Homo sapiens: one gene and its partners. The protein of the gene in region 3 purifies or fractionates together with the protein of the main gene of each other region. This does not show direct contact. Each region holds a gene or a part of one and is shown on either strand. Other genes may lie near its edges. The genes, in order: FAM98A, KLHL8 and RACGAP1.

Region 1 (10,355 bases), on a different chromosome or scaffold from region 3:
ACTATTTTCAAAAGGATGTAATATAGGTAGACAAAGTATCCAGAAAGATACAATGGGCACAACCTAAAAATATTTAAGTCTAAGGATGGAGGTAATCTGGGCACTGGGAAATCAATTAAGTATATATAGAAATGATTCAAATGCCTTCCCTCAGCAAGAATTTGCCTATTCTATGTCTACCACAGTTGGACACTAGATTAGTTTGGATCTACAGCAAGAAATAAAAATGATAGTGGTATATCTTTAATAGTTTTCATAGAGAATACTGACATCCTATTCTAGTTCCTAGTAGTAGGAGGAAACAGAACATTAACTAAAGGTACTGTCTGTCTCACTGTATCCGTTTTAAGAGATAACAGTTTAAGATATCATGTTAAAAATTCTCTCCTAATATTTTTCGCTTGTTTCTCCAAGAAATTCTCATATGCCCTATATTCCAGTAAATCATTATTTACAAGTTAAGGTTAAGAATGCATATAAGATCAAAAGATACTCTCTATACAAAACCTAAGAACTTTAATATAACAATAAAACTAACTGGTGGTTTGAAATATCCTGTTTCTAGAGAACTTGATCTATGTTCAAGAGAAAAAACTCAATTCTTTTATGGTTTCAGAATGGGGAGAGGCGGGGGAGGAACAGCAAACGCTGGTAAGGTTCCAGAGAAAAGGGAACACTTATACACTGTTGGTGGGAGTGCAAATTAGTTCAACCATTGTGGAAATCAGTATGGCGATTCTTCAAAGAGCTAAAAGCAGAACTACCATTCGGCCCAGCAATCCCATTACTGGGTATACATCCAGAGGAATATAAATCACTCTACCATAAAGACACATGCACGCATATATTCACTGCAGCACTATTCACAATAGGAAAGACACGGAATCAACCTAAATGCCCATCAATGACCAACTGGATAAAGAAAATGTGGTACATGTACACACCATAAAATACCATATAGCCATAAAAAAGAATGAGATCCTGTCTTTTGCAGGAACAAGGCTGGAACTGGAGGCCATTATCCTTAGCAAACTGACACAGGAACAGAAAACCAAATACCACATATTCTCACTTATAAGTGGGAGCTAAATGATGAAGACGCATGAACACAAAAGAGGGAAACAACAGATAGGGGTCTACTTGAGGGTGGAGGGTGGGAGGAACTAGAGGAACAGAAAAGATAACCTTCGGGTGTTGGGCTTAATACCTGGATGATGAAATAGTCTGTACAACAAACCGCTGTGACACAAGTTTACCTGTATAACAAACCTTCACATGTACCCCTGAACATAGAAGTTTTTTAAAAAATAATAATGTTGGGGGAAAATCTAGTTTGAAGCAGGAGCTGCAGATTTCAGAACTATCAGGGCGAAATGTATCATTTGTGTTCTTACATCCTTATATTCGAAAAAGCAATCTATTAACCGTAAAGATAAATCAAAATATTTTTCAAAAGAATGAAACCTGTATTCATTAGCTATATTGTGGAGTCTGAGGCTACAAAACAGATCAAAGCAAATACTAAATATAAATACATCCTAAGATATGATACATTTAAAATATGAAACCTTGACAATTTTAATAGGAAATCCTATATAAACATAATTACTTAACAGTTTAAAGAAACCAACACAACATTCAAGACAACTTAAAACCTTAACTTACTTTAATGATAAAACACTTGAAATTGTCTTCAAATTTGAACATTTTAAAATAATTGTAAATGTTAGCTGAAAAATAAACAGGTAAAGTTAAAAGGATCAATGTGGGTTTTCAAAGATGGTTTTAGTATTAGAAGAATGTGCTTATCTCAGTAGCAAGTAGATTATTTTAAATGGCATGACATGAGTTGATTCTTTAAAAAAGCCCAATTTAGTAGAAAGGAAATACAATTTCTCTTTTGATAAACATATTTATATTTTCAGTTACTTCCTTTTTTAAAAAAAGTCCCCCAATCTTAGGAAGAATGGAGAAGCAAATAACAAAAAAACCCTAAAAACATTTTTGCCTAGTATGTGTAGCAACAGCTACACCCAGTGGCCAGAGATGAGTGGTGACGGTTTCTAGCTATATTATTATAAAAGGAAAACCTGGAAAGAGCCATTTTTCCATTTATTTAAGGTTTTAGGATAAAAGTCACCTTTCACTAAAATTAGGTTTTAAGGAAATACTCAAGAATCTTTGGGAACAAAAGCCTTAGCTCATCAGCTTGACGCAAGAGTCCAGAATAATTCAGTAGCTAAAATAAAACTCAAACCAAAGAGAGAACTTAACAGATACTTTATTGCTCACCTTTCACACAAAGCACACCTCCAGCCATTTTCTTTCACAGCTTGACAATGTTTACATGTACAAAAACCCAGCAAGAAGCATCATGTCATGTAGATTTCAGTAAGGGAGAATGTAAAACATCAACTCAGCCAGGCTTTTGTTTTCTGCAGCAATAATAAAGGGCCTCCTGCACTTAGCAAAAATCTGTCTTAACTTTGTAGTGCATTTCTTCCATTACAAAAAAAGTTACCTGCTTAAAGCAAACTAACTTGTATTTGCTGAGCCAGTGGTATTAACTCATGCATAAAACAAATTTCGGTTTGCTATTTCTTCTAGCAAATTTCAAGTAAAAATAAGGTTGAAGGAGGAATTTGTTTTGGATGGATGCAGGTCAGTTTGAATTGCTATACTTAACTAAATGCCTACATGTACTATAGCTTCACAACTTAGTTTGCTTTTATAATCTTTATGGATTTTGGCCGTGTTCAAGGTTTTCAGAGTTGAGCATATGATACAGTATTCCATCAACAAAATAAGGCTACTGAATGTGCTATCTGCAAAAGAGCTCATTTAATAGGAACTGACCTAAAAGTTCCATCATGAAGCACACGTGGCATAAAAGTCAACCGGGGGGCAGAACTGTGCTTGGAAAATAGGCATTGGAATACTTTAAGCAAAACACATATAAATGGTTATTCATATGAGGAAGGTTTCCTAGTAGTAAATCTAAAAAAGTCTAGGTGAATCCTCATTTTCAAAACTGCATATTGAAAACATGAAAACTACTTATTCAAGTAATTTCTTCAAAAAAGTTTGCATGTTCTGACTGTGGAATTAGTCTACTGGGCAATTAAAGGCAATTTTAACCACCTTTTAAAAAATTTTTCATAGAAAGGAGAGATGTTATGTGTTTCTCAAATAAACGGCATTATGTAAGTCCAATAAAAAAATCTAACAGAATTGAATGAAGACCTACAAATGCTTATGCCAAGCAGGAATCTGCCTGCCACCTGTGGTCTCACATTAATTCAAAATAGGTGCTGAATTCAGGATTCTGAAACTAAGTTTCTATTACTTGAGCTCTAGCAAAATGTAAGGTTCGGTAGCCTCAACTAGTGTAATGTCTTCCCTGTCCAAATCCAGAATGATTATACTGATAACCTCCATGCTGGAAATGCTGTTCAAATTGACCCCCTTGGTGATAATTCTGGCTCCCTCTTCCTCCCCAGCCTCCTCCCTGGCCTGCACGACCACCTCGGCCTCCACGACCACCTCGCCCACCACGACCACCACCACGATCACCATGGTGCCCGCCATCTTGGTATCTATTGTCCTGCTGGTAGCCACCACCCTGGTATCCACTTCCTGTATATGAAGAAGATGTTTGGAAGCCACCATAACCTCCGCCTTGATAGCCACCACTGCTGTGGCCACCATGATAGCCACCTGGCTGGAAACCTGAATCTCGATAACCACCATCTTGGTAGCCACCTCCTCCACCACTCCCTCCATCTGTCCAGCCTCCTTGATGCTTATTTCCTCTTCCTCCCCCTCGGCCACCATGGTCATAGCCACCACGTCCACCTCTCCCGCCTCCTTGTTCATGACCTCCTCGTCCTCCGTATGAGGAATGTTCATAGCCACCTCTCCCTCCTCCTCGGCCTCCTGTTTGCTGCTGGGGGCCATCTTGCCTCTTCTGCCACGGTGGCATCTCTGGGGGTGGAGGTTCGATTTCATTGGGTCTACCACCTCTGTCAGGCACCCTGCCCATCAACACCTACAGAATAGGAAAGATATTTTAAACTTTTATTTTATGAACAGAAATAAATGCATTTGGAAAAAATTAAAGGTACTCTAATCACCTTATTGATGGCACAGGCAGTCTTTTCTCTTATAGAGCCGCTGCTTGTCCTTAAAATCTTTGACAAGTCCTGCCTTGCAGCCAAAAGATGGGCAACAGAAATAGTAGTTTTAGGGGATAAGACTGAACGTTTCGGCTGGTAAACCTTGGCTAATTTTTCTGTCTGGCTCTGTTGAAAGAAAAGTGTTCAAAGAGAAATGTCAATTTTCAAAATGACATAAGAAACACATATTAAATAAGTTAAAGGTCTCCAAAATATCTGATAATGATATTTACTAGGCTCTAGATGGTAGGAAAAGTTATATACTCACTACTGCTCCTACATAGTCAAGAACTACCTTAAAAGTACAGCTGCCAGACTTGTTGACACAACAAGGAGTGACAGGGACTGTGGGGGCAGGGGTGGAGTGAGAGGGTGCCCCTTTAGGGTTATGAGGCCAACGTGATAAAAAGGTTCCCCCATCATTGGTCTCAGATCAAACATACTCATTTTCTCTATTTAAATATAAGAATATAAAGCTATTTCAACAATTTTGCTTTTTAATTTTCCTATCTTTGGTTTCTATGAGGTAATAACTATCTGCTGAATGACCAAGGTCTTTACCTGGATTGTCTCATTTAGCTGAAAAAAAACTTAAGTCTTACCAAATTCTCCAATTGTCTATAAATCATACCAAATCCAATATTTCTAACTTCTATTAGCAAATTAAATTATTTAAAGTAAACAAGTAATTTGAAATCAATTTATTATTTTAGTAATTTTCAGAATAACTCCATTTCTCTCATAATAAGAACTTCTCTCTCCAATAAGAACTGTAAAATTCAGATTTGTTAAAAAATAGAAAATTGAAAAATAAATGTTTTCATCATTGCTGAATAGTTGAAAGAGCCACTACTCAATAACTCACTAAGGAAAAATCCCTATGTGTGTCTTCTATGTACTTCTCCCATAGTTGCCAAGTAGCTAAATTGTTTAGATGTTCAGGGATCATGTCTATAAATAGTCTGCTCTTTTAAATTATTTAATGTGTACCTTAGCTCTGTCAGACCAGCCAAAGGATTGTACAGTGACATCCAAACGTTTTATTAGCAGCTTTCTCCGGACTTCATATTCATTGGCTATGGCTTGGTTAATTGCTTCTATCTTTTCCTGAAGCAAAATTAAAAAGACTAGTTAGAGTTTAAATCTGCTTGATTCTCTGTCCCAAAAGGGCAAAAACTACGTCTGTGTCATTCATAACTGAGATCCCGGCCATTTAACAGTCAAAAGTTCTTATTCCATATAATATACTAACAATTAATGAAATGATAGGTGACAAAAAGCTGATTCACAAAACATAATGAAGAGTATGTGAAGTACACAATTCTTATTTATCTTTCCCATAATTTACTGTGTGAAGCTCAGCCCAGTGAAGTTTTTGGCTTGAAGGCAATCCATTTGGCAACGAGAAACATGCACCATACTTAATTTCAGTTTACTTTTATCAGCTGTGTGAAATATTTACAAAGTATGAGAAAAGTGCTTCTAATCTTACACAAATAAAAATATTCTGCAGAAATCCTGAGATTCACAAAATGATTCTAAGGGTGTTCAACTAGAAAACTATGTATAAGAAAACATAATTTAAAAAGCACAAAATGTAAGTGTTGACATGAAAATCATAAACTCTATAGTTCTTTACAAAGTTTACTCAAGATGATTACTACTCACCCAGTGGGCTGGTCCCATTGGCTTCTTCAGTAAAGGCTTTCCCACATGATTAGGTGGAACTTTTGCTAATGTTTCCTTTAACTGACACAAAAACATAAATAAATGAATAAAAACTCTAAAAGTAAAACATCCTCATCTTCCCAATTCCCATCATATCTTGCCATCAAAAGAAGATTCCTGACAGAGGCAAAGGTGGAGGATGTTTTGAAATGCAAATGTAAAAGACCCACAAGATAAAGACACTCACTGGTCCCACTCCTCACGCCTACAGAAGTCCTTCATTGCACCTAGAACAGTGCCTGACAACAGTAGGCACTCAATGAACATTTGCTGAATGGATGAATGAACACACAGGAAAATATGGACTATGGATACACTGCTGCTCCCCTGTAGAGTTCAGCCAAATTTGTGCATCATGGTGCTGGTCTACCCCACAATGCAAATGTACCAATTCTTAAGAGTCCAGCAGATAAGCGTATAGGGAATAACTGTGCTTTAACAAATACCGTTCTCTTCTACTCATTTTTGTTAAAATTGCTTGTTCCTAATTAATTATATAGAAAATCTTAACTGATAATGTGTGGTATAAAAATAATTCTAATTTCTTTTCACATACTAGATTATGTTAGCAGTCAACAAATCTATTTTGTCAATTGAAGCATGAGGTTTGAAGTGACTGGATTAAAAAACAAAAATATTAATATCCTTTCTGTCCAGTCAATGGGGAGGAGGGTGGTAACATTTAGTGATAAAGAACTTAAATTGACTGTATCAAAGTTCAATGATAAAATAATTTTTAAAAGGACTGAAATCTTAATCCTTTTTACATTATATCTAGCTTACTTTAGCTTACAAACCAGTGTAAAGTTTCCTTTTTGAAAAAGAAACATGCTAACATGTTTTTAGGAAAATACTAAAATACTAATTTATCTTTAAGGCATCTAGGATTTAAAACCCAAAACTCATTTCGTAACAATTACTTAATAATATATGCACATTAGGTTCCCATTAAGAGAAATTAAATTAATTGCTTCATTTCAAACAAATGTAGGACTATGCCTTTAATACACTACAATTTGGTACTAAAGGTCTTACTTTTTTTTCAATCCCGCTGAAGAATTGGAACATAGTTATATTGGCTGGAGGTTTGGACATTCCTAGAGCAATACATATGCCTTTCAACTCTTGAAAGACCTCACTACCGCCTCCTTCTTGAGCTTTTTTTGGAGGAGCATTCACACAGAGCATTCTGGCAGCTTCTAGTTCTGAGATGAGGTATGCTGAAGTAAACAAAATAAGATTTCAAAATGAGATACAGCTATAGTTATAGTCATAAGTCTGGAGTCACAACTATATAGACCTATTGATATGTAACTGTTAAAGCTGCAAGAATGGATAAAAACAAGAAAGAAAAACTACTTTTACCTGCAAATGAAATAAGAAATAAACTGGTTATGTAATTCAGTTATTTAAGCGATATATAATGTTTAAATGTTAATTTTAAAATAAGCGATTCTCTTTGAAACCGAAGGATCGAGGTAAGTAACATCTAAAAATTTGGAATCTTGAATTCTGGTATTAAGGAACCTCCAGAACAGGGGTTGGCATCTGTTAAAAATTTTGCAAAAGAAGGCAGGTGACCAATTTTTAATGACAATTAATTTTTTTTTTTTAACTTCTCACTACTTGTGAGCATCAATGACACAACTACCTTGCTCTCTTGTCTCCCATTAATTAGGAGCCTGTCCAGAAGAGGTGTGAAACAACATTTATAAGAAGTCAAAGCTTAACTCACAGGAGAAGCAGGAAGGCACCCCAGAGCTCCTTTCCCATGGTCTCCAAATCTTATGTTGCCCTCTGGCTAATCAAAGAGAGCCCTCTTTCATCTATATTCTTCTCAGGACTCCCTTCCCCCTACTTTCCTCACCCCATTCCCTTCAAAACAACCATAAAACCTTCAAAGCACTTTTTGGCATGGTTCCCTTTGTGTCAGTATCATCCCCTTGTGTGCTGATTTCAGCCTGGTATAATGGGGGCTGCAATCTGTTTCAGGTAATTCAGTTGAAGGTATAAATATTCAATCTCATTCCTTTAACATTCCCAAGGACATTTCAATTTTTATAAAAGATGATTAAGAATCATTTGAATCTTAGGATTTCTGGTTATGTGACAAAGTGAGATTCTTCTGACAATATAACAAAACCAGTTTTGGGAAAAGATATTTTCAAGGCCCTCAGGTCCTATTAGAAGTAGAAAAAAGTCAACTTGTGTATCAAATTTCCTATACCCAAAATGTAATGCTAGAAGGACAGAGGCCATAATTTTGGCAAATCATTTCTGAAAGGCTGCCAACTCCTGTTCTAAAACAATAAATACAGCTAAGTTTCTGGAAAGGTCATTCTAAATGGATTTGACACTGTAAAATCTTAACATGTTCCATACAGCAAACTGTATTTATGAGTTAAAACGTCAAAACAGTAAAACCCCACTGTTAAGACAACAACCACTGTTTTTGTACATAAGGTTTCATTAGGACACTGCCACACTCACTCATTTATATATTGTCTATGGCTGCTTTCATGCTGTAACAGCAAAGGTATGTAGTTGTGACAGAGAACTTAGGGCCACAAAGCCAAAAATATTTACTATCTGGCCCTTTTAGAAAAAGTTTGCCAACTCTTGTTCTAGAAAATCATATACTATATGATTTAATATATTGGTTCTGTAAATTTGGGATAACATAGTTCAGGTATTCACAAAATTAGGTTACCAATATAATTATCATGAAAAAACTTTAATCGTAATCAGTATGTTCAAAGCACTGGGAAAGGCACTGAAGATAACATTTTTTAAAACATCAAAAAGATGACCTCTTCCGATAATCTAGTTAGGAATAAAGAGTATATGCAAAAATAAAAGATGAATAGTTCTTCATCTATTAGGAACTCAGACATCTTACTTAATTTACGTAAGGGCAACACTCTGAGAACCATAAAAGGCCAATGAAGAGCCAAACAGAGTCCTTAATCTGATACATGAGAGCTTTTCAGCCTCTCACTCAAAGGCTATTCTATTTTTCCAACAATTCTAATGAGGCTGGTTTGTTTTCCCCCCTAAAATACAATGTGATAAAAGATTCAAGTTAGTGAGGTAAGGGTGCTGGAAAAGTAAAATTATAGCATCCAGATGTGACAACTGATACTTCAAAAGATGAGAAATATTTACATAGACCAAGTCAAAAATGAGTACATGTAGGTAAATGCTAGAATGAAAGAGAGGTTACAAACTGGGGAGAATATTTTAGAAAGGGAGAATCGGCAGAAGCAAAGATAAAGAGGGAAACAGTGTGTATATATGTATGTATGAAGAATATAAAAAGTGAGTGACCTCTAGATGATTTAGTCATTTAATTGAAGAGCAAATAGTGGTATATTCTTGAAAAGCATTTGAGGTGATGATAGCAGATTAAAATAAAGTCTAGAATTATGACCCTGAGTCCAAAATAATGTTCACTGAAGTCTGCTTAAGAAACAGAAAAGTGTGAAAGGCATTTTATACTTACATTCAAGTGGTTTGTATAAGTATCAGTGCTAAAAAGGCCAAACTCTGAGCTCTTTGGAAGAATTAGCTATTCAGGGTCATTAGTAAGCATTCCACACAGCTATTATCTTCCTATGTAGATAACATATTCTAAGTGCCAAATATTGGTAAAGGATAAGCAATGCTATAAAGGAAGAATCAGCTGAGTATACTGCTATTGAATCAGTTACAGAAATTGTACAATATGAAGAATATTAAATGAATATGTAAGAACTACCAGCAGCAATATCAGTATCTAAAGCAACACCTAACCTTACGTGCACATTCCCACAATAACAATCATTTGACAGACAAAGGGGAAGTTACAAAAGTGATTCTGGAATAACTTAGTGCCTAAGTATAATGGCTATGAACACTTTTTTTTTTTTTAACAGAACCTTAAAAACTGAAGTTGTATAATTTTTTCAGAAACCATAATAGAGTTGTAAAAACAAAGATTTTAAAAATCCTCTGAATTGTCTGTCATAATGAGAACTATAATAGCCAGTTAACCAAAGCTTAATGTAAATGTGCTTCAGAATGCTACATAAATTCTGAGTTAAGACTATAGGTTGTATTTATTGGAAAGTTTATAGAAGGCAATAAAATTTTTGAATCTACTTACTGTTTTTCAGTGTGAAGAGACAAAACAGTAGTAAGTATGTAAAAAACATGGAAGGAAAGAACTTTTCATAAAAACTCATTTCTCAGAATAAGTACCAGAACAATGCAAGTATTATTCCAGAATATTTACAAACAAAACCAAAATCCCCAATTACCCAACCACAAAGAAATAGCAACAAGACAAAATACTTTAAATTACATTAACCATTAACTGTATCTACTATTATAAATGCTTACTCTCCTCAAAGAAATGAATTTCTAAACAAAATCTCCATTATTTCCATACTATCTTCCTAATATACTTAAAAA
Region 2 (11,346 bases), on a different chromosome or scaffold from region 3:
TGAATCAATCAAAGGTACCACTTCCAGGTAGAAGTAGCAGCACTATTATTCATATGAAGGTAGTGTATCATAAATATCAACTTCTAGCTTTGGAAGAAAAACAGATACTCAGTGCTTCAAAAATAGCCTGTTCTCTTTCCTTTCCGCAATATAACCTGTTTCTCTTTCCTTTCCACAAAAAACTAATTTTAAAAATAATCTCTAACATTTTTACTAAAGAAACCTGCCTAGATCATTGAAGCTAGTGGTTTCCTAAACCTTTAGTGGGAACAAGGTCATGATGCTCTTTTAATTTAATTTTTCCCCAGAAAAGTATAAATTTTCATTTAATTTCTCCCCAGAAAAGTATAAATATACAGAGTTCACAGACCCTTGGAAGACCATTTATGCTCACGCTAACAGATTCAGGTTAAGAGTCAGAGAGATGAAGTAGAAAATTTCCCAAGGTCCCTCCAACCCTCTTCCATAATTCTCTCTCTGACTCATAAGAACCAACTAAATCATTCATAACCAAACCAAACAATATACTTTCTTGCATGACCAACCCATTTAAAAAAAAAGCAGCTGACAGTATCTATATAGCAATATCCACCAGAAAATAAATTGTACTGGCAGCATTTTAAAATACAGCATGTGACTAGTAATATCAATGAATATTATAGTTGATTATAGCTTAGAGAATGTTTTCACATACAACACCAAATAATCCTCAATTCTGGTAAAATAGAAGTACGTATTATTTTTATCCCCCTTCCACAGCTAAGGAAAGAGGTTTAGAAAATTACTTGCCATGCTCACACAGCCAATAAGTGGAGATCTGGGATTCTAATAGAGAATTGTGTAGTACCAGAAGTGAGCTCAGAACAATATTATAGTCTGGTGCTTCCATAAAAGCTCCTCAAAACAGAGAAAACAGAATTTTTAAAAATAGACTAATGGGTGACATTTTTATTGCAGACATATCTTGACATGAGTAAACAAAAATTAATTTATTTAAAATGCTCAACTCCCTCTTGTTTCTTTGGCTAATATAAACCATTTTGTTCAGAAAAAAAAAAAAGACATAGTCAAGTGAATTTTAGCGACTGAAAACAACATTTTGTTATTTTATGAAACATTTATCCTCCCTCATCTCTTGCTTTTTTTGGGGGTGGGGGGAAATAGGGTCTCACTCTGTCACCCAGGCTGGAGTGCAGTGATGCAATCATGGCTCACTGCAGCCTTGACCTCCCTGGACTCAGGTGATCCTCCCACCTCAGTCTCCCGAGTAGCTGGGACCACAGGTGCACACCACCACATCTGGGTAATTTTTGTTCGTTTGTTTGTTTTTTTGTAGACACAGGGTTTCGCCGTGTTGTTCAGGCTGGTCTGGAACTCCTGGGATCAAGCAATTGGCCTGCTTTGGCTTCTGAAAGTGCTAGGATTACAAGCATGAGCCACCGAGCCTGGCCTCTTTTTTTTTTTTTTTTTTGGAATATAGAGAAAGGTCTCACTTTGTTGCCCAGGATGGTCTCAAACTCCTGGGCTCAAGCAATCCTCCTGCCTTGACCTCCCAAATTGCAGTTACAGGTGTGAGCTACCATGTGGGGCCCTTTAGTTCTTAATATACAAAAATAAATGTGACTCTTGGGAATTCCAATATAAGTAACCAAAAATTTAAACATTCAATTTATAAAACACAAAAACTATCTGAAATTAATGTTTAAGATGTCTGCAATAGTCTCTTTAATCTTTTTAAAATGACAATATCCATTTCAGTTCTCTACAACTCTCAAAAGTTCTTGATAAAAACAAAAGGGTTATTTGTCCAAACCCACAGAATGTTTAACACCAAGAATGAATCCTAACTGTGGATGTGATAACATGTCAATGTAGGTTCATCAATTGTAATATACGTACCACTCTGATGAGAGATTTTGGCTCTGTAGGGGTAGGCGATACATGGGAAATCTCTATACCTTCCACTCAGTTTTGTTGTGAACTTACAACTGCTCTAAAAAAGAAAATTCATTTTTCAAAATAGCAGGTGGGATCAAAATTTACCCAACTTTTTTTTTTTTTTTAGATGGAGTCTCGTTCTATTGCCAGGCTGGAGTGCAGCTGCGTGATCTCAGCTCACTTCCACCTCCCAGGTTCAAGTGATTCTCGTGTCTCTGGGACTACAGGCATGCGCCACCATGCCCAGCTAATTTTTTTGTATTTTTAGTAGAGATGGGGTTTCACCATGTTGGCCAGGATGGTCTTGATCTCCTGACCTCTTGATCCGCCCGCCTCGGCCTCCCAAAGTGTTGGGATTACAGGCGTGAGCCACCGCGCCCGGCCCTAACTTTCTTCTTAATGAATGAAGAAATACTGTTTTTAAAAAATAACCCTCACTGAATGTGAACTGAGTTTCTTGTCAAAAAATGTGCAATTATTACAGAATATATCATCTTAACCAATTATCAGTAATCTTATCAAATGCTAAAAGAATTGGCAGCTTTAAAAATTAAAATGATGAAGCTAAGTGCTCATATGTAGTTGAATAGAGTATCCTTAGACTTTTTTTTTCTTTTTTTGAGATGGAGTCTCACTCTGTCGCCCAGGCTGGAGCGCAGTGGCATGATCTCGGTTCACTGCAACCTCCGCCTCCCGGGTTCAAGCCATTCTCCTGTCTTAGCCTCTCGAGTAGCTGAGACTACAGGCATGTGCCACCACGCTCAGCTAATTTTTGTTATTTTTAGTAGAGATGGGGTTTCACCATGTTGGCCAGACTGGTCTCGAAAATCCTGACCTCAAGTGATCCCCCCGCCTCAATCTCCCAAAGTGCTGGGATTACAGGCGTGAGCCACTGCACCCGGCCCCTGAGACACCTCTTTTTATATTTAGGCTTACGCAATTTTGGTATCTTGAAAGCAATTTTTTTAAAAAGTGACGAAATAAATAAAGTGACTAAAAGTTTGAAGTTTGAACTGGGTCAGTTTGACAAATTAAGAAGGGTGCCAGGAGGAAGTCTGAGGAAAAGCAGCAGCTTAATGCCACCGCCATCTCCAAGCAGCGTTCCAGGCGCCAGCACTGTTAGCAGCAGTCCTCTGCGTACCCAAGAGTACCGCAGGGCCAGAACACGAGAAAGATGCGCGAAGAGGATTTCCTTCTAGAGAGAGAATAAAGAACACCAAGAGTCCAACAATTACCATCTTGTATAGGAGAAAAACAATGCAAAGGAAAAAACGTGCAACCAGCAGATAAAATACTTATGTCAACCCAGGTTCTAAGGACCTTTTCCCAAAGTATCCCTCTAAACTGGTAACATTAGCTTAGGGCAGAGTCAAGAAGAAAGTTATGCCATTAACACAGATGAAAATACTGAACGTTTTCTATGAAAAGTCACCCGATTAAACACTGCCAAGAGGGAAAAACAGTGCAAGTCCAGTAAAGCACGAGACACGTAGAAAATTCAAGCTATGTAGCCAAATCGCTCTCTCTGAAGAAAACAGCAAGCCAACTGAACCCAGCACGGAGTGGAAGGCGTAAAGAGCTGTCATCGTGGCGGTAACAACTCCACCGGGCGGCTGAGCGTCTAGAAAGAGGCTGCGGTTCCTGGTTCCACATCAGGAGGCACTCTCCACAAGGTCTACACCGCCGCTCCCGGGAAGGCACCTCCAGGGCGGCCAGCAAGCCCCCCGAGTGGGGACAGGCAGTGCCTTCCTCGCCTCGTCCCCGCGCGGCGTGGCCCGGAGGTGGCCCACTCGCCCCGCCCCCGCAGGCCGCGGCTCCAGGGGGCGTCCGGCCGCCCTCCCGGGGCCCCGAACCCGCGCCAGCCGCACCGCGCCTGCCCTCTTCCTGGACCCCGCGAAGCACCTGCCTGGGCCCCTCTTCGAAAGACTGGGAGGAAGGAGTCAAGGAGCTGCCGGGGAGGCTGACAGAGCCAGAGGCTGGAGCTCCCCTACGGGAGCCGGGAGCATAACCCTGCTCCTCCCGCCAATGGGGGCGACAAAAGCCGTGGAAGGTTGCTCAGGGGCTGGATCTCCTGCTGTCCGGGCCCCAAGCCCTCTCAGCTGTGGAGTTTCGGTTGGTGCACGAGGGCTCGAATTTCCTCCGCACACCGGAGACCCAAGACGGGACGGTGTTGCGACTTGGGGGCTGGGGTGAGGGAGGGCTCGGCGCGAGCGGACGGCACCGCACAAAGGAAGAGGGGACTGAGGGGAGACGAGGGGACTGAGGGGAGACGAGCGTCCCGTTACCTCGATCCTCGACCCTGTTCTTCCTGATGTCGCTAAGGTTGCAGCCACGTTACCACGCTCCCAGAGCCCCGGCCGCCCTCAGCGGAACCTCACCAACCCCGCGCGAGCACCCGGCGGACGCGCGCTCTCCTGCGCGGCCCCGCGGAGCCCCGGCGGGCGCTTGGCGTCCTCTCGCCTCAGCCCCCGCGAGCCGCGGCCTCTGGGGGCGGGGCGGGCTGGGCGGGGCTGCGCACGGCACTCTGGGAAGTGTGGTTCTCGGGACCTCCTCCCCGAGGCCACCCCCACGGCCTCGCCCCCGCGGCTCCCTAGTGGGCGGCCGGGTCTCAGGGACTGGGCAGTGTTGCCCGGCCTGGTGAAGGCGGACCAGGGCGTGGCGGAGGTCCCCATAACAAATCTTGAAATAAAACACTGCCTAAATACCTTTGAGCTTATCCATGCTTCACTTCTGCGGCGGTACAAAATTTAGTTTCTTTGTATGTCCATCAAATCCCCTTCTGCGGTTGTGAGTGTTCCTGGGATTTATGTCTTTGAAAAAAGAAGGGGAAAAAAAGGTTTGCATTTATTCCTGTGTCACTTTCACCACGTGCTCTACAAAGGATATACAAAACAACTGTGTTTATAAATACACACCCACAGTTTGTAAACCTAAGGAAGCAGTTGATTGACCTGAGAGCTCGCTGCTAAAAAGCAGTGCAAGTGGCCATGCGCGGTGGCTCACGCCTGTAATCCCAGCACTTTGGGAGGCTGAGGCGGGCGCATCACGAGGTCAGGAGTCGAGACCATCCTGGCCAACATGGTGAAACTCCGTCTGTACTAAAAATACAAAAATTAGCTGGGCGTGGTTGTGCGTGCCACCAATCCCAGCTATTCGCAAGGCTGAGGCAGGAGAATTGCTTGAACCCGGGAGTCGGAGGTTGCAGTGAGCTGAGATTGTGCCATTGCACTCCAGCCTGGCGACAGAGCAAGACTCCGTCTAAAAAAAAAAAAAAAAAAAAAAAAAGCAATGCAAGTAAAAGTGCTGTTGAAATGAATTAATTTTTCTATAATGTCAATAAAGTGGAATGTGTGAGGCGGGAGATCAAGAGACAGCAAAAAAACAAAATTTTTTTTAAAGAAAGATATTCCCCTAAATGTGTCTTTTGCCAGACTAACCTCAAACTTTCACAATCCTAGGAGTCTATTTCAGAATAAATTTAATCCTAGGACCTTTATTAATATTAACACATATGAACATTAGCACATTGATTTTAATAGAAATGAACATATATATATCTGTATATATATATGCATCTTCTATAAAAACCCCAAAGCAACTATTTGAATTTGAAATTTTATTTCTAGAAAAAAAATCACATTTTTTACATTGAAATATAAATAATTCTTAATATTTCAAAATATTCCTCTTTAGAGCATTAGTATTTTGCACATTTAATGCAAATACCTTTAGAAAAATAGAGTAAGATGAGTTTTAAAGAAGTATGCAGTGAAGAAAAGTCATAAAATGTGTCTGGAACGTGATGTAAAAATTGTTGGGACTCAGAAATCGATACCCCAAAATATGGTGCTTTGCCGCGCTGAACTGAGGAAGCAGCTTCAAGGTGTCTCTTACCTTCCCCATTACCCCTCCTGCCTCTCAATTCTTTGTCTCTCCCAAAGCACCAAATGATGTCGTTCTCTGAATTTCCCTTATCTGCCTAGAAACTAGACCTGCCAAAGAGGAACATATTTGCCTTACCTGATTTTTCATTTACTTAACTCATATTGGAGGAAGAAAGACTGAAGTCTGTCAACACTCTTGGACAGACTTTTGTCACAAACTATTGTCTGCTGTATGGGCTCAACACACTTTTTCCCAGGCCATTGTATGTTCCCCATTTTCCCCTAAAAGTCCTTTACTATACCTTAAGTTGCCACATTTCCCCAATCTCCCTTTCCCCCATAAAGAAGAGTATATAAACGTCTCTACCCCATTGAGTCATTGGGTAATCATTCTCCTGAAATCTCCCTGTGTTATGCACATTAAAATAAATTTTGTATGTCTTTTTTCCTATTAGTCTGCCATTTGACAGTTGATTTTTCAGTGAACCTTCCAAGGGAAAAGGGAAAGCTTCCCTGTATTCCCTTTATTAAACATAAAACACAATATGTATTTTATTTATTTATTTATTTTATTTTATTTTTTTGAGACGGAGTTTTGCTCTTGTCGCCCAGGCTGGAGTGCAGTGGCACAATCTCAGCTCACTGCAACCTCCACCTCCCAGGTTCAAGTGATTCTCCTGCCTCAGCCTCTGCAATAGTTGGGATTACAGGTGTCTGCCACCACGCCCGGCTAATTTTTGCATTTTTAGTAGAGACAGGGTTTTACCATGTTGGCCAGGCTGGTCTCGAACACCTGACCTCAAGTGATCCACTCGCCTCAGCCTCCCAAAGTGCTGGGATTACAGGCATGAGCCACCACGCCCGGCCTACAATATGTATTTAGTAAGACCATGTTAATAGAAATTTTGTTTTTTATAGCCTAAGCTTTTATTTTATTTTATTTATTTTATTTTAGAGACAGAGTCTCACTCTGTTGCCTAGGCTAGAGTGCAGTGAGTAGCACAATCATGGCTCACTGTAATCTTGATTTCCCCGGCTCAGGTGATTCTCCCACCTCCCGAGTAGCTGGAATTACAGGCCCACACCACCACACCTGGCTAATTTTTTTGTTTGTTTTGTTTTGTTTTGTTTTGTTTTGTAGAGATGGGGTTTCTCCATGTTGCCCAGGCTGGTTGTCAAACTCCTGGTCACAAGGGATCTGCCTTTCTTGGCCTCCCAAAGTGCTGGGATTACAGGTGTAAGCCACCATTCCTGGCCACTTTTCTTGTAATAAGGTGCACAGTAACTCCTAAAAATGCTTATAAAAAAGAGCACAACTGCTCTTTTTCTTCTGCTAATTGACATATACACAATAAACTATTTGTAGTTACTAACAAATCAAAGAAATATACACAATATTTCAATATTATTATCATCTATTTATCGAAGAACATTTTTTGAGCACCAGACACTGAGCTAGGAACTGGGAAATACGCAGTAGACAAAATTGAATAGTCCCTGCTCTCATGGAGACTTAGGATCTAGACTCGGAGACAGAGAATTAAACAGTGAATAATGAAAAGGTATGCATGGGGTGGCCAGGGGTTTGGGGAGCACCTAAGATACACCTAATCTAGAGCCTTTTATTGGGGCAGAGGAGTCTGGCAAAAATTCTGAAAATTAAATGAAATTTTTAAACCAAATAGCTATAAACTGGGGCAAAAAAAATCTTTCCCTAAAAAGTGATATATCTGTAACAATGCTCTCAAATAATTACTTAAAAATATATACAGTATCTTACAAAATAAGACATACCTCAACTAAAACAAAACACACATTTCCTAAATCGGACGAAATGTCTTCTTAGTTTTTACCCATTCCTCCCTAGCTCCATTTGAGAATAAGCAAGACTAGCCTATAATAAGTAAGGATCTAAGAAATTCCTTCCCTTCCCTCAAAGTCCGATAAATTAAAACTGGAAAGGATCTGATAGCTGTTTGTTCATTTTATGATTGTACTTTAGTCAGAAAAAAATTGCAATATTTTAACCCCAATCAACATTTGCATTTTTTTTTTTTAAATTTGAGATGGAGTCTCGCCTTGTTACCCAGGCTGGAGTGCAATGGCACGATCTTGGCTTACTGCAACCTCCGTCTCCCAGGTTCAAGTGATTCTCCTGCCTCAGCCTCCTGAGTAGCTGGGTTTCGGCCTCCCAAAGTGCTGGGATTACAAGCATGAGCCACCGCGCCGGCCAACATTTGCATTTTAAGTCTTTATCTTTAATCCTGGGATAAAAGGCTTTATAACCATCAAAAGAATTTCAGATGTGGGCTGGATATGGTGGCTCATTCCCTGGATGACAGAGCCAGACAATTTTTCTTTCTCTTAAAGGAGTCGGGGAGCAGGGAAAGAATTTCAGATGTGGCTTGCCGAGGGATTTGGAAAGATTAATGAAGAAGGTTATTTTATCTTCATTTGCTAGGGAGGCAAAGCTTGCAACCAGAGAGCAGGTCCCAGAAGAGTTGCTAAGGTTCTTTGTCTATGGAAACGTACTTAAAGAGCCTGAACACCGCCAGCAAGACCACTATCTTCCTGTCCAGGTCAGGGTTACTGGCTTGCAGTTACATTTCATCCCAATCCTTTGACTCCTATCCTGTCACCCTCCTACAAAACCAGCCTTTACTGTGGCACTTCAGCTTCCCTCAACAATCATTTCCCGCCTTTTATCCTAAGACACACATGTGGATGGCTATGTTTTCTGACCTTAGGCTGGTGGCTCAACTTGTGCTGTTTTAATAAATTAATGACAGTTCTTCCATCCACTACCATGCAATCAGCCTGACATAGGTATCTCTAAACCTTTGCTGACCATTTTCTGATATATTTCTCTGATATATATTGTTGTTTTGTTTTTGTTTTTATTTTGTTAAAGAGATGGATGGGGTGGAGTTTGGTGGGGTGCGGGGATGGGGGGATTTTGCTATGTTGCCACGGCTGGTCTTGAACTCCTGGCCTCGAGGGATCCTCCTGCCTTAGCTTCCCGCCTTAGCCTTCGGAGTGGCTGGGATTACAAGGCTCAAGTCACAGCACCCAGCATCCCTGAAATATTTAAAGTTCCCAATTTTTCTGTGGGTCTTTGTAATTGCTGTTCCTTCTACCCCTTTGCCTGGTGAACTCTTTCTAATCATCTAGTATTAACTTAGAAAACTTTTTAATTAGGAAACCTTTCTTGGTTACAGTCCCCCCTCTCCAGTTTTGGGTTACTGCCTCCTATATATGCTCATCTTACAACTTATTTTTGCCCCTAAAGTAGCACTTAGTGAGCATTTTAAGAAGTTGTCTATATCTTTCATTTGTCTGAAATCTCCTTAAATAGAAAATAACAGCATAGTACTTGATGTATAGATGCTTAATAAATACTTGGACTATAAATGGATGCATATCAACTTTGCTCAGTAAACAACCATTCGGTAACTACTTCCTGCCAAGGGCCAGGCAGTAAATATTTTAGGGTTTGGGGCCATAAGGTCTCTGTTGCTTCCTAAAGGACAATAGTCAAGTCTCACTGGTGGCTCCAAAATATCTATATAAGACAGAATTTGAGTTAAAACTTGGAATGAAAGGAGTAGGGGTGCAGCTCTGGGTTAGAGGACATTACTTGAAGATATCTTTACAGGCACACAGTTATTGTTTCCACTGAATATCTATTTTAGGTAGTTTGGGGGTGGGTCTGTGGGTGAAGCTAAAACAGAAAGCATCATCCTTGCTATGACCACTGCTAGTTCTGTTGGTGCTCTAAATCATTTCTTTTGAAAATTACTAGTGCTGGTGACTTTTGAAATGCGGGTGTTGTTGTTTTTTTGTTTTGTTTTCATTTTTAGCATTTTATTTTTATTACTCCATCATACCCAAGTCTAATCAGTTTCCATTTCCCATGAACCTGCCTAGATAGGGTTGAATTCTCAGGCTGAATATGTGGGGGAACTGTGGAATTCTCTCCGGAGCAATATGAGAAATGACAGAATGAGAGCAATTTGCCTCCATCCCTACCACATTCAAGAACTGTGACTTTAGTTACCAGAAAAAAACACATTTAGAGAAACTTTGATTTTCAGTAACTATTTTTGAAACATGTGCCACATACTTCTGAGCAAAATTGTATCCATATGTATGGTAGAAATTGGCACAGTGAAACAAATGTAATTGTGTTTCCATTGCAATTTGTATTCCAAATGTACGATGTCTGTGAAAAGTACTTCTTTCATTAAGATATAGCTCTATATTAGGCCAGGCGCGATGGCTCACGCCTGTAATCCCAGCACTTTGGGAAGCCAAGGTGGGTGGATCAGTTGAGGTCAGGAGTTCAAGACCAGCCTAGCCAACATGGTGAAACCCTGTCTCTACTAAAAATACAAAAATTAGCCGGGCATGGCGGTGCACGCCTGTAGTCCCAGCTACTTGGGGGCTGAGGCAGAAGAGTTGCGTGAATCCAGGAGGCGGAGGTTGCAGTGAGCTGAGATCGCGCCACTGCATTCCAGCCTGGGCAACAGAGCAAGACTCTGTCTCTCTCTCGCTCTCTCTCTCTCTCTATATATATAAATAATATATATATTATTTATATAAATAATATATATTACTTATATAAATAATATATATATTACTTATATATAATATATATTATTTATATATAATATATATATTATTTATATATAATATATATTATTTATATATAATATATATTATTTATATATAATATATATTATTTATATATAATATATATTATATATATAATATATATTATATATAATATATATTATATATAATATATATTATTTATAAATAATATATATATTATATATAAATAATATATATTATATATAAATAATATATATTATATATAAATAATATATAATATATAAATAATATATATATTATATATAAATAATATATATTATATATAAGTAATATATATTATATATAAATAATATATAATATATAAATAATATATATTATATATAAATAATATATATTATATTTCCTTTCTGATATCATCTTCACATTCTCATAATAGAGTCAATCTGAAAAGTTTATTTTTTGATATGAAAATAAATGCAACATGGCAGACCCTACTAGCTGCTTAAGCAGCATCTTTTTGCCTTCTTCTTTAGAAGGAGAACTCCAATATTGTTAGCAGGATGGCTGAAAGCCCAGCTAAAAGTGCAACTATTGCACAGGACTTTGGGGATGGCTGCTTAAAGGAAACTAATCCAGTTTTAAAGTATCTCTCTCGTTTTTCTTTCTTCCTGGAAGCGATGGCTTGAGTTTTAGTAGCCATCTTGGACCATAGAGTTATTTGACACTGGAGACGGGGCACCACGGTTCATGCCTGCAATCTCAGCACTTTGGGAGGCCCAGACAAAGGAAGCTTGAGTCCAGGAGTTCGAGACCAGCCTGGAGAACACAGCAAGACTGTGTCTCTACTAAAATTAAAAAGAAAGAAAAAAATTAGCCAGTGGTGTTGGTATGTACCTATAGTCCCAGCTAT
Region 3 (10,048 bases):
GGCTCAAGCGATTTTCTTGCCTCAGCCTCCCAAGTACCTGGAATTACAGGCATGTACCACCACCATGCCCGGCTAATTTTTTTTGGTTGTATTTTTTAGTAGAGATGGGGTTTCATCATGTTGGCCAGGGTGGTCTCAAGCTCCTGACCTCAAGTGATCCGCCCACCTCAGCCTCTCAAAGTGCTGAGACTACAGGCGTGAGCCACCGCGCCTGGTCATGTCCATTCTTTTTTTAATGTCTCTCTTTTTTTTGAGACAGAGTTTCCCTGTTGTCCAGGCTGGATTGCAGTGTTGCAACTTTGGCTCACTGCAGCCTCTGTCTCCTGGGCTCAAGTGATTCTCATGCCTCAGCCTCCCAAGTTGCTGGGACTACAGCCATGTGCCACCATGCTCAACTAATTTTTTTGTATTTTTAGTAGAGACGGGGTTTTGCCATGTTGGCCAGGCTGGTCTTGAACTCCTGACCTCAAGTGATCCGCCTGCCTCGGCCTCCTAAAGTGTTGGGATTCTAGGTGTGAGCCATGGCACCCAGCCTTTATGTCTGTTCTTGATTTATCAATACTGTCGTTGCCTCCTCCTGACTCTGTCCAATGAATTACTTGGAAGCAAATCTCAGCTATCATATAATTTTATCTGTGATAAAATTATCTTTTATTCTTGCTCTTATGTTAGACATACTTCATAATAGGTTATCAAAATGAAGTTGCTTATTTCCAAATATTTAACCAGTTTAATCCAAACTGATTAAATCCATTAAGAAATTATTTATTGCTGAGTGTGGTAGCTCATGCCTGTAATCCCAGCACTTTGGGAGGCTGAGGCAGGAAAATCACTTGAGCCCAAGAGTTTGAGACCAGCCTGGACAACAAAGCAAGACTCCATCTCTACAAAGAATAAATAAATAAGTTAGCCAGGTTAGTGGTGTGCGCCTGTGTTTGTAGCTCCTCAGGAGGCTAGGTTGGACTATTGCTTGAGGTGGGGAGGTTGAAACTGCAGTGAGCTGTGATCACACCACTGCACTCCAGCCTGGGGAATAGAGCAAGACCCTATCTCAAAAAAAAAAAAAATTATTATGTAAGTAACATTAGCAAGAATCAAAATGACTATCTTCCTACCTACTCTTCAGCAAATCAAATATTATTTTCCCCTGATCTTACAAGTTCTTATCCATGCCTGTACATTTTGTTTTGTTTTGTTTTGTTTTGTTTTGTTTTTGAGAGGGAGTTTTGTTCTTGTTGCCCAGGCTGGAGTGCAATGGCGCAATCTCGACTCACCACAACCTCCACCTCCTGGGTTCAAGCGATTCTCCTGCCTCAGCCTCCCTCATAGCTGGGATTACAGGCATGCGCCACCATGCCTGGCTAATTTTGTATTTTTAGTAGAGACAGGGTTTCTCCATGTTAGTCAGGCAGGTCTCGAACTCCTGACCTCAGGTGATCCGCCCACCTCGGCCTCCTACAGTGCTGGGATTACAGGCGTGAGCTACCGCACCTGGCCGCCTGTACATTTTTTTTACACATGTTCTGTACTCTAATATAGAACCATGGAGTTCTCCCCTACAGGTAGGTTTGTGTCATAATCAACTGATAAGATATGTTAAATAATTTTTTTTACTGAGAATAATGAAAGTATACACAATTTTTTTCTCTTGTTCCAGCTTTCTTCTGTTAGAAAAAAAAATCTGTTTAGAGTAATAAATTATTTTATATTAAAGGCTATACCTGTAACCTCATTATTGCTTGTTTTCTGCTGTCCTTGAGTGGATGAGAAGGAGGTAATTATAGCTGGTGGTCTTATTCCTTGTTCACATAACAGTGTGGTGTATATATGAAAAAGAAAAAGTGTGGTATATATGATAATAAATCAGTCCTGGTGTGGAGGTAGGAAAAATAATTGAGAGTCTCTGTTTTAATATATGCTTTGGGAATAGGAATGTAAAAGTAGACATGATGTCCCAGTTTGAGAATAAGATTGGAGGTGGTTCTTCGCATGTGGTCTTCATCTGTTGGTCTACATGGCGTAAATAATAATTTAAAGCTCTTTTTTTTTTCCAGGGAATGCTGGCAGACTTTGTGTCCCAGACTTCTCCAATGATCCCCTCCATTGTTGTGCATTGTGTAAATGAGATTGAGCAAAGAGGTCTGACTGAGGTAAGAGTCAACTGTAGGAGATGGTGAATTTGTTATTTGTGTTAATTCGGAGGTTTTTAAATAAAAATGTCATCTTGATAATAGACAGGCCTGTATAGGATCTCTGGCTGTGACCGCACAGTAAAAGAGCTGAAAGAGAAATTCCTCAGAGTGAAAACTGTACCCCTCCTCAGCAAAGTGGATGATATCCATGCTATCTGTAGCCTTCTAAAAGACTTTCTTCGAAACCTCAAAGAACCTCTTCTGACCTTTCGCCTTAACAGAGCCTTTATGGAAGCAGCAGGTAAGGGCAGATGTAATACTTGAATATGAATTCCTCCACGGCAGTAGTTTTTCTTACTCTCTTTATTTTTTTATTTATTTTTTATTTTTTAGACAGAGTCTCACTCTCGCCCAGGCTGAAGTCAGTGGCGCAATCTCAGCTCACTGCAACCTCCGTCTCCCAGGTTGAAGCGATTCTCCTGCCTCAGCCTCCTGAGTAGCTAGGATTACAGGCGTGTGCCACCATGCCTGGTTAATGTTTTCTATCTTTAGTAGAGATGGGGTTTCACCATGTTAGCCAGGATGGTCTCGATCTCCTGCCCTGTGATTTGCCTGCCTCGGCCTCCCAAAGTGCTGCGATTACAGGCGTGAGCCACCGTGCCCAGCCTCTTTTTTTTTTTTTTTTAAGACGGAGTCTTTCTCTGTCGCCCAGGCTGGAGTGCAGTGGCGCTATCGGCTCACTGCAAACTCCGCCTCCTGGGTTCAAGCGATTCTCCTGCCTCAGCCTCCTGAGTAGCTGAGATTACAGGCGTTAACGGTGTTATACCATGTTAGCCAGGCTGGTCTCAAACTCCTGACCTCAGGTGATCTACCCACCTTGTCCTCCCAAAGTGCTGGGATTACAGGCATGAGCCACCACACCTGGCCACCTTCCTCTTTTTATTAGCTCCTGCCTAGTACAATGCCTGAAACATAGTAGGTGCTCAAGTAGTTTGATGGATGAGTAACTGTATGCGTGTCACCCTTGCCTATCCTCTTGCTTTCTCATTACGTTATTGTGTACAGTGTTCTTCCTTTCTTTCCTTCCTCTCCAGTTAGGTTGGAGCTTTTTCAATTCTTAGAATATACCAAGTTTACTCCCTACCTTAAGGCCTTCACATTTGTTGTCTCAACCTGAATGCTCTTACATTAGATACAGTATGGTTTGCTCCTTTATTTCTTTCATATTTCTCTTCATATACCTTGTCCCCAGAAACACCTTTCCTGACAACCTTGTCTAGATTAACAGCTCTCATTTCTTTCTAGCTTCTTGCCTGCCTTGTTTTCTTCATTTATGTATCACTCTACCTGATAGGTATTTGCTTTTTGACTGACTCCACCAATAGAATGTAGGTTCCATAAGATAAGGGCTTTGTTTACTTCTGCTTTATCCTCAGCACTTGTACCTGGCACATCGTAGGCCCTTAAATATGTCTCATGAATGAATACCTTCTTGGTAATTGTAGTCACTGCAATTGTATGCCTGTCTGCCTAGCACATCAGTTGCCAACTGCTTTCCCTAACTGCAAAGGCCGATTTTTTAAAAGTTTTGACTTCTAATATTGAGCTGTTGGCCAGTATCCTGCTTGTTAATGAAACTAGAGTCTGATGTAGTCATGAACTAATCAGGAGTTTCAGAAGCTTACTGTATAGATGAGACTTTGTGGTCGATAACTTGGAAGCCCGCTGTCAAGGGAAAGAAGTCTAGGCCTCTTGGTGCTTTCTTTTCAATTACAGAAATCACAGATGAAGACAACAGCATAGCTGCCATGTACCAAGCTGTTGGTGAACTGCCCCAGGCCAACAGGGACACATTAGCTTTCCTCATGATTCACTTGCAGAGGTGAGTACAGCAGAAACTTGTTCTGGGAGTTAGGGAATTTTTTTCCAAGGGGAAGATAATGTGGGTTGAGTGTTTGGGAGTATGAGGGATGAATTGTTTTCTTATAGAATTTATATTTTGGTCTGCATTTAAGCAAGGAGCAAGACTTCTAATTTAATATTCTTTTGCTTAGAGTGGCTCAGAGTCCACATACTAAAATGGATGTTGCCAATCTGGCTAAAGTCTTTGGCCCTACAATAGTGGCCCATGCTGTGCCCAATCCAGACCCAGTGACAATGTTACAGGACATCAAGCGTCAACCCAAGGTAGGCAGGTGCGTGTGTGTGTGTATGTGAACTTGTGTAATGTGATAACTTGAAAGACAGTTGAGAAGCCCTGAGCTTTGGAAGTTTGCTAACAGATTTGCTGGCTTTTAGGTGGTTGAGCGCCTGCTTTCCTTGCCTCTGGAGTATTGGAGTCAGTTCATGATGGTGGAGCAAGAGAACATTGACCCCCTACATGTCATTGAAAACTCAAATGCCTTTTCAACACCACAGACACCAGATATTAAAGGTAAGGCCCAAGATGTGCTTCTTCAGGGACTTGACTCTCTCTTTAGTTTTAGTCATATGACCTCTTCCTGCCTTTGCTAGAGCTGTTTGAAAATTCTAACATTAAAGGAAAATTTGTATAATTCTACCATCGTAATTTTTTTTTGCTTTTCCATGTTCTCCTTTCTTTATCCATATGGATATATGTTTTTTAAATATAGATATAATAGGCTGGGCATGGTGGCTCACACCTGTAGTCCCAGCACTTTGGGAGGGAGGCTGAGGCGGACGGATCACAAGGTCAGGGGATTGAGACCATTCTGGCCAACATGGTGAAACCCCATCTCTACTAAAAATACAAAAATTAGCTGGGTGTGGTGGCGCATGCCTGTAATCCCAGCTACCAGGGCGGCTGAGGCACAAGGAATTGCTGGAACCCAGGAGGCGGAATTTGCAGTGAGCTGAGATCCCGCCACTGCACTCCAGCCTGGTGACAGAGTGAGACTCTGTCTAAAAAAAAAAAAAAAAAAAAAAAAAAAATATATATATATATATATATATAATAGTTTAAATATAATTCATTCTTATTTCACTTAGCATGTTGTGAGAACTTTTTCTCATGTATAATCTTATTTATCATTTACTTAAATGTTCTAGTAGGTATTAACATTATTTTTCAATTTTTCATAATTACAAGTAATGCTATAGTCAATATAGCATTTCTCTTAATGATAAATTCCTAAGAGTGGGATCACTGAATTAAATGGCTTGAACATTTTTATGTGTCTTGGTATGTTTTACCAACTTGATTTATTAAATTTCTTATAGGCTTTTGCCAATTTATATTGCTAACCAACAATTTTATATGAATAGGCTGGTTTCACTCCAGTCTCACTGGCATTGGAGACCCATTCTTTCATTATTGCAAGTTCCTTCTAAGGGAGCATATTGCTTCTTCTAGTATAGCTAAAAGTCAGATGTTTAGATGTTAGATTTGTGAAGTGTGGAGTTAGAGAATGGCCTAAATCAGGACGTGTCAGCTATTCATTGAGTTCAAAAGATACACTAGTGTGTTACAGAATGATGACAAAAATGATCTCTGGGACTTTGCTAGATGTCTAACCTTAGCTCTTAAGTGCTTCAGAGGGTAATCAGCTTAAAACTAGCCATCTAAAAAGATGCCTTCTTTTTTCCCACCTCTCTTAAAAATATGTCTGAACTTTGAAGTGAGTTTACTGGGACCTGTGACCACTCCTGAACATCAGCTTCTCAAGACTCCTTCATCTAGTTCCCTGTCACAGAGAGTCCGTTCCACCCTCACCAAGAACACTCCTAGGTATGCAGAATTGGCCTTCCTAGGAAATAAAAAACAACTACTTTCTTAGACTTCTTATTATATTGAAGCTTATTGAAAGAAAAATTGCATTCGATTTTAGCTAGCAACTAGACTTTAAAAGGGAACGTGGGGCTATAAGGATTCCTTCTTTAAAAAGGTTCTGAAAGTCTTTACTATTTCCCCTCTCTCGTTGTTGGTGACTAAGAATACTTAAGCAACTATTGCAAAATAGTTGTCTAGGGTTTCCTACTTATAATGGGTTATATCAAGTAATATTATAGTTGTTTATTCAACCATTTTTTATAGAATATTTTTCCAGTTCATTCTCTTTTTATTGTAGATTTGGGAGCAAAAGCAAGTCTGCCACTAACCTAGGACGACAAGGCAACTTTTTTGCTTCTCCAATGCTCAAGTGAAGTCACATCTGCCTGTTACTTCCCAGCATTGACTGACTATAAGAAAGGACACATCTGTACTCTGCTCTGCAGCCTCCTGTACTCATTACTACTTTTAGCATTCTCCAGGCTTTTACTCAAGTTTAATTGTGCATGAGGGTTTTATTAAAACTATATATATCTCCCCTTCCTTCTCCTCAAGTCACATAATATCAGCACTTTGTGCTGGTCATTGTTGGGAGCTTTTAGATGAGACATCTTTCCAGGGGTAGAAGGGTTAGTATGGAATTGGTTGTGATTCTTTTTGGGGAAGGGGGTTATTGTTCCTTTGGCTTAAAGCCAAATGCTGCTCATAGAATGATCTTTCTCTAGTTTCATTTAGAACTGATTTCCGTGAGACAATGACAGAAACCCTACCTATCTGATAAGATTAGCTTGTCTCAGGGTGGGAAGTGGGAGGGCAGGGCAAAGAAAGGATTAGACCAGAGGATTTAGGATGCCTCCTTCTAAGAACCAGAAGTTCTCATTCCCCATTATGAACTGAGCTATAATATGGAGCTTTCATAAAAATGGGATGCATTGAGGACAGAACTAGTGATGGGAGTATGCGTAGCTTTGATTTGGATGATTAGGTCTTTAATAGTGTTGAGTGGCACAACCTTGTAAATGTGAAAGTACAACTCGTATTTATCTCTGATGTGCTGCTGGCTGAACTTTGGGTTCATTTGGGGTCAAAGCCAGTTTTTCTTTTAAAATTGAATTCATTCTGATGCTTGGCCCCCATACCCCCAACCTTGTCCAGTGGAGCCCAACTTCTAAAGGTCAATATATCATCCTTTGGCATCCCAACTAACAATAAAGAGTAGGCTATAAGGGAAGATTGTCAATATTTTGTGGTAAGAAAAGCTACAGTCATTTTTTCTTTGCACTTTGGATGCTGAAATTTTTCCCATGGAACATAGCCACATCTAGATAGATGTGAGCTTTTTCTTCTGTTAAAATTATTCTTAATGTCTGTAAAAACGATTTTCTTCTGTAGAATGTTTGACTTCGTATTGACCCTTATCTGTAAAACACCTATTTGGGATAATATTTGGAAAAAAAGTAAATAGCTTTTTCAAAATGAACATGAGGCTGGTTTTCTTGTCTTGCAAGGTAATTTTCAATGCCTTTTAGAAAATCATTTCTGGGGCTGGGCTTGGTGGCTTATGCCTCTAATCCCAGCACTTTGGGAGGCCAAGATAGGTGGATCACCTGAGGTCAAGAGTTTGAGATATGGCCAAACTCTGTCTCTACAAAAAATACAAAATTAACTGGGCGTGGTGGTGCACACCTGTGGTCCCAGCTACTTGGGAAGCTAATGTGGGAAAATTGAGCCTGGGAGGCAGAGGTTGCAGTGAGCTGAGATCGTGCCACTGCACTCCAGCCTGGGTGACAGAGTGTGAGACCCTGTCACAAAAAAAAAAAAAGAAAAAATTACTTCCTTCAAAGTGTCTTGACTCTGTTGTTCATCCCCATTTCCCACTCTCTGGACCCACCCCAGGCTTACCACCACCGGGAGTTTGTTTCTTCATTTCTCATCCAGTCTCTCTTTGTCCAAACTGGAGTTGTAGAGTTGTCCTATGCCTGTTGTCTTGTTTAAAGAAACCACAGTCATGAGTTGCATAATGACAGGGATACATTCTGAGAGGTGCTTCATTAGGTGATTTCATTGTTGTGTGAACCTGAGTGTCCTTAAACTAACCTGGATGGTGTGGCCTACTACACACCTAGGCTGTATGGTATAGCCTATTGCTCCTAGGCTACAAACCTGTACATCATGTGACTGTTCTGAACACTGTAGGCAGCTGTAACGCATGGTAAGTATTTATGTATCTAAACATAGAAAGGGTACAGTAAAACTATGGTTATTATAATCTTATGTGACTACTGTTGTATATGGGATCCCTTATTGATCAAAACGTTATGTAGTGTGTGACTGTACTTAAAAAATAAAACAACAACAACAACTTTTTAAACAAGTCTTTAGGGACCAGAATGGTGCAGATAAAAAAAAAAATTGCCTCTGGCTGGCTGACTGCCTAGAACATCCTTCACTGCTGGAAGTGACTTTGGAGTGAGCTGGGATGATTAACTGAGGGCACCTGCACTTGGAACTCTGAAGCTGGTGAACAGAATGTATCTGAGATTGAACGTAAACAGTTGTAGGCTTAATATGTAACTGTGGAGAGAGGAGGCAACCTACTGGCTTTTTTCCCAGGAGGGGGCAGCTTCACAGCAGGGCCCATCTGCCTCAGCAAATTGACAGAGGATGGGTCCCATACCCCCTTTCACACACGCCTGCTAGGCCTTGTTTTTTAAAACTGCCCTAGATGCTACCTCTTTTCTTATGTCTTTGCAATCCTAGCGTTGGCCTGGTTCCATATTTGCTGTTCTGTAGTATCTCCCCAAGGTGCATTTTCAGTCACTAATGTAGAGGAAGTAAATGGATTGTGTAACATTAGTGAAGGCAAGGCTACCCTATGCAGGAACCAATGGTCCATTAACGAAAAAGGAAATGGTCCTGTGTGTCAAATGTTGGCAACCATTTGCTCAGTTTTTGGGCTAGGCCAAGAGACCTTAGCCATGAAAATAATTCTGATAATAGCAAAGGGAAATATATACCCACCTTCAACTTCTTTAACAGTACTTCCTGCGGAACAGCCTGACTTTCCAGGGCCTTCTTAATTATACCTCCTCAATGTGAGGGCTGTGGAAGGGGGTCCAGTGCTTTGGAGTAGCCATCAGTCCATCTCTTACTCCTAACCCTTTCTGACATTCCTCTCTTTTAATGCAGTTTAATTTTACTATCGCACTTGCTAATAAACAGAATCTTTAAGTTGTGATATTTACCTTTATTCTCCCTGATCTATGTAAGACTCCCTAGTTTGATGTTTATCTAACTGGGCAAGCATTACATGGTTGGATTCAGCTGCAACAATTTGAGTTTATTACTGGGTGTTTAACAACTTATCCTTCCTTAAGAGGGTGAATTCATTGCTTGCAGAGATAGAAGAAGGAATGTGAGTTTTGGTCAGAGGACATTTAGGGTGCGCAATTGATTTACCAGGGGAAAAAAGTACTCATTTTTGGTTATGAACTGAGCCTGTGGCATTGAAATTGGTCTTGTGTTCTTTTTATTTTATTATTTATTTTATGCCTCCCAAGTAGCTGGGACAACAGGCATGCCCCACCATGCCCAGCTAATTTTTAAATTTTTTATAGAGACAGGGTCTCACGATGTTGCCCAGGTTGGTCTCAAACTTCTGGACTTAAGTGATCCTCCTGCTGCAGCCTCCCAACAAAGTGCTGGGATTACAGGCATGAGCCATTGTGCCCAGCCAGTTCTTGCATGCTTAAATTATTAGGCAGCACAAAATGACAAGGAGAGCTGAGGGAGTACAGGGAGCAAAGATACCAGGCTTGCTGCTTTTGTTTTGTTATGGTAGGGTCTACCTGCACACCTATCTAGCTTCAGATAGATTGATATGGTTTGTGTCCCCAGCCAAATCTCATCTTGAATTGTAGTTCCCATAATCCCCACGTGTCATGGGAGGGACCCAGTGGGAGGTAATTGAATCATGGGGATGATTACTAACCTCATGGTGTTCTCGTGATAGTGAGTTCTCACAAGATCTGATGGTTTTATAAGGAGCTTTTCCCCCTTTTGCTCTGCACTTCTTGCTGCTGCCATGTGAAGGACATGTTTGCTTCCCCTTCTGCCATGATTGTAA

The links.
Region 1: the proteins of RACGAP1 (region 3) and FAM98A purify together in Homo sapiens (co-immunoprecipitation; 3 studies listed by BioGRID and IntAct, with this or other methods). This does not show direct contact.
Region 2: the proteins of RACGAP1 (region 3) and KLHL8 purify together in Homo sapiens (affinity purification with mass spectrometry; 2 studies listed by BioGRID and IntAct, with this or other methods). This does not show direct contact.

What each region holds. Positions count from the first base shown.
Region 1 is NC_000002.12:33,581,397-33,591,751, forward strand, and holds the end of FAM98A (protein FAM98A), read right to left. Parts: intron 7,124-10,355; coding exon 6,939-7,123; intron 5,925-6,938; coding exon 5,844-5,924; intron 5,283-5,843; coding exon 5,166-5,282; intron 4,302-5,165; coding exon 4,134-4,301; intron 4,049-4,133; coding exon 3,380-4,048; 3' UTR 2,264-3,379; downstream 1-2,263. UniProt on the Homo sapiens protein: Positively stimulates PRMT1-induced protein arginine methylation. Involved in skeletal homeostasis. Positively regulates lysosome peripheral distribution and ruffled border formation in osteoclasts.
Region 2 is NC_000004.12:87,216,195-87,227,540, forward strand, and holds the start of KLHL8 (kelch-like protein 8), read right to left. Parts: upstream 4,425-11,346; 5' UTR 4,224-4,424; intron 4,075-4,223; exon of another isoform or gene 3,841-4,074; intron 1,994-3,840; exon of another isoform or gene 1,900-1,993; intron 1-1,899. UniProt on the Homo sapiens protein: Substrate-specific adapter of a BCR (BTB-CUL3-RBX1) E3 ubiquitin ligase complex required for The BCR(KLHL8) ubiquitin ligase complex mediates ubiquitination and degradation of RAPSN.
Region 3 is NC_000012.12:49,986,516-49,996,563, reverse strand, and holds the end of RACGAP1 (rac GTPase-activating protein 1), read left to right. Parts: intron 1-2,054; coding exon 2,055-2,150; intron 2,151-2,234; coding exon 2,235-2,433; intron 2,434-3,908; coding exon 3,909-4,014; intron 4,015-4,186; coding exon 4,187-4,319; intron 4,320-4,430; coding exon 4,431-4,566; intron 4,567-5,771; coding exon 5,772-5,880; intron 5,881-6,220; coding exon 6,221-6,296; 3' UTR 6,297-7,402; downstream 7,403-10,048.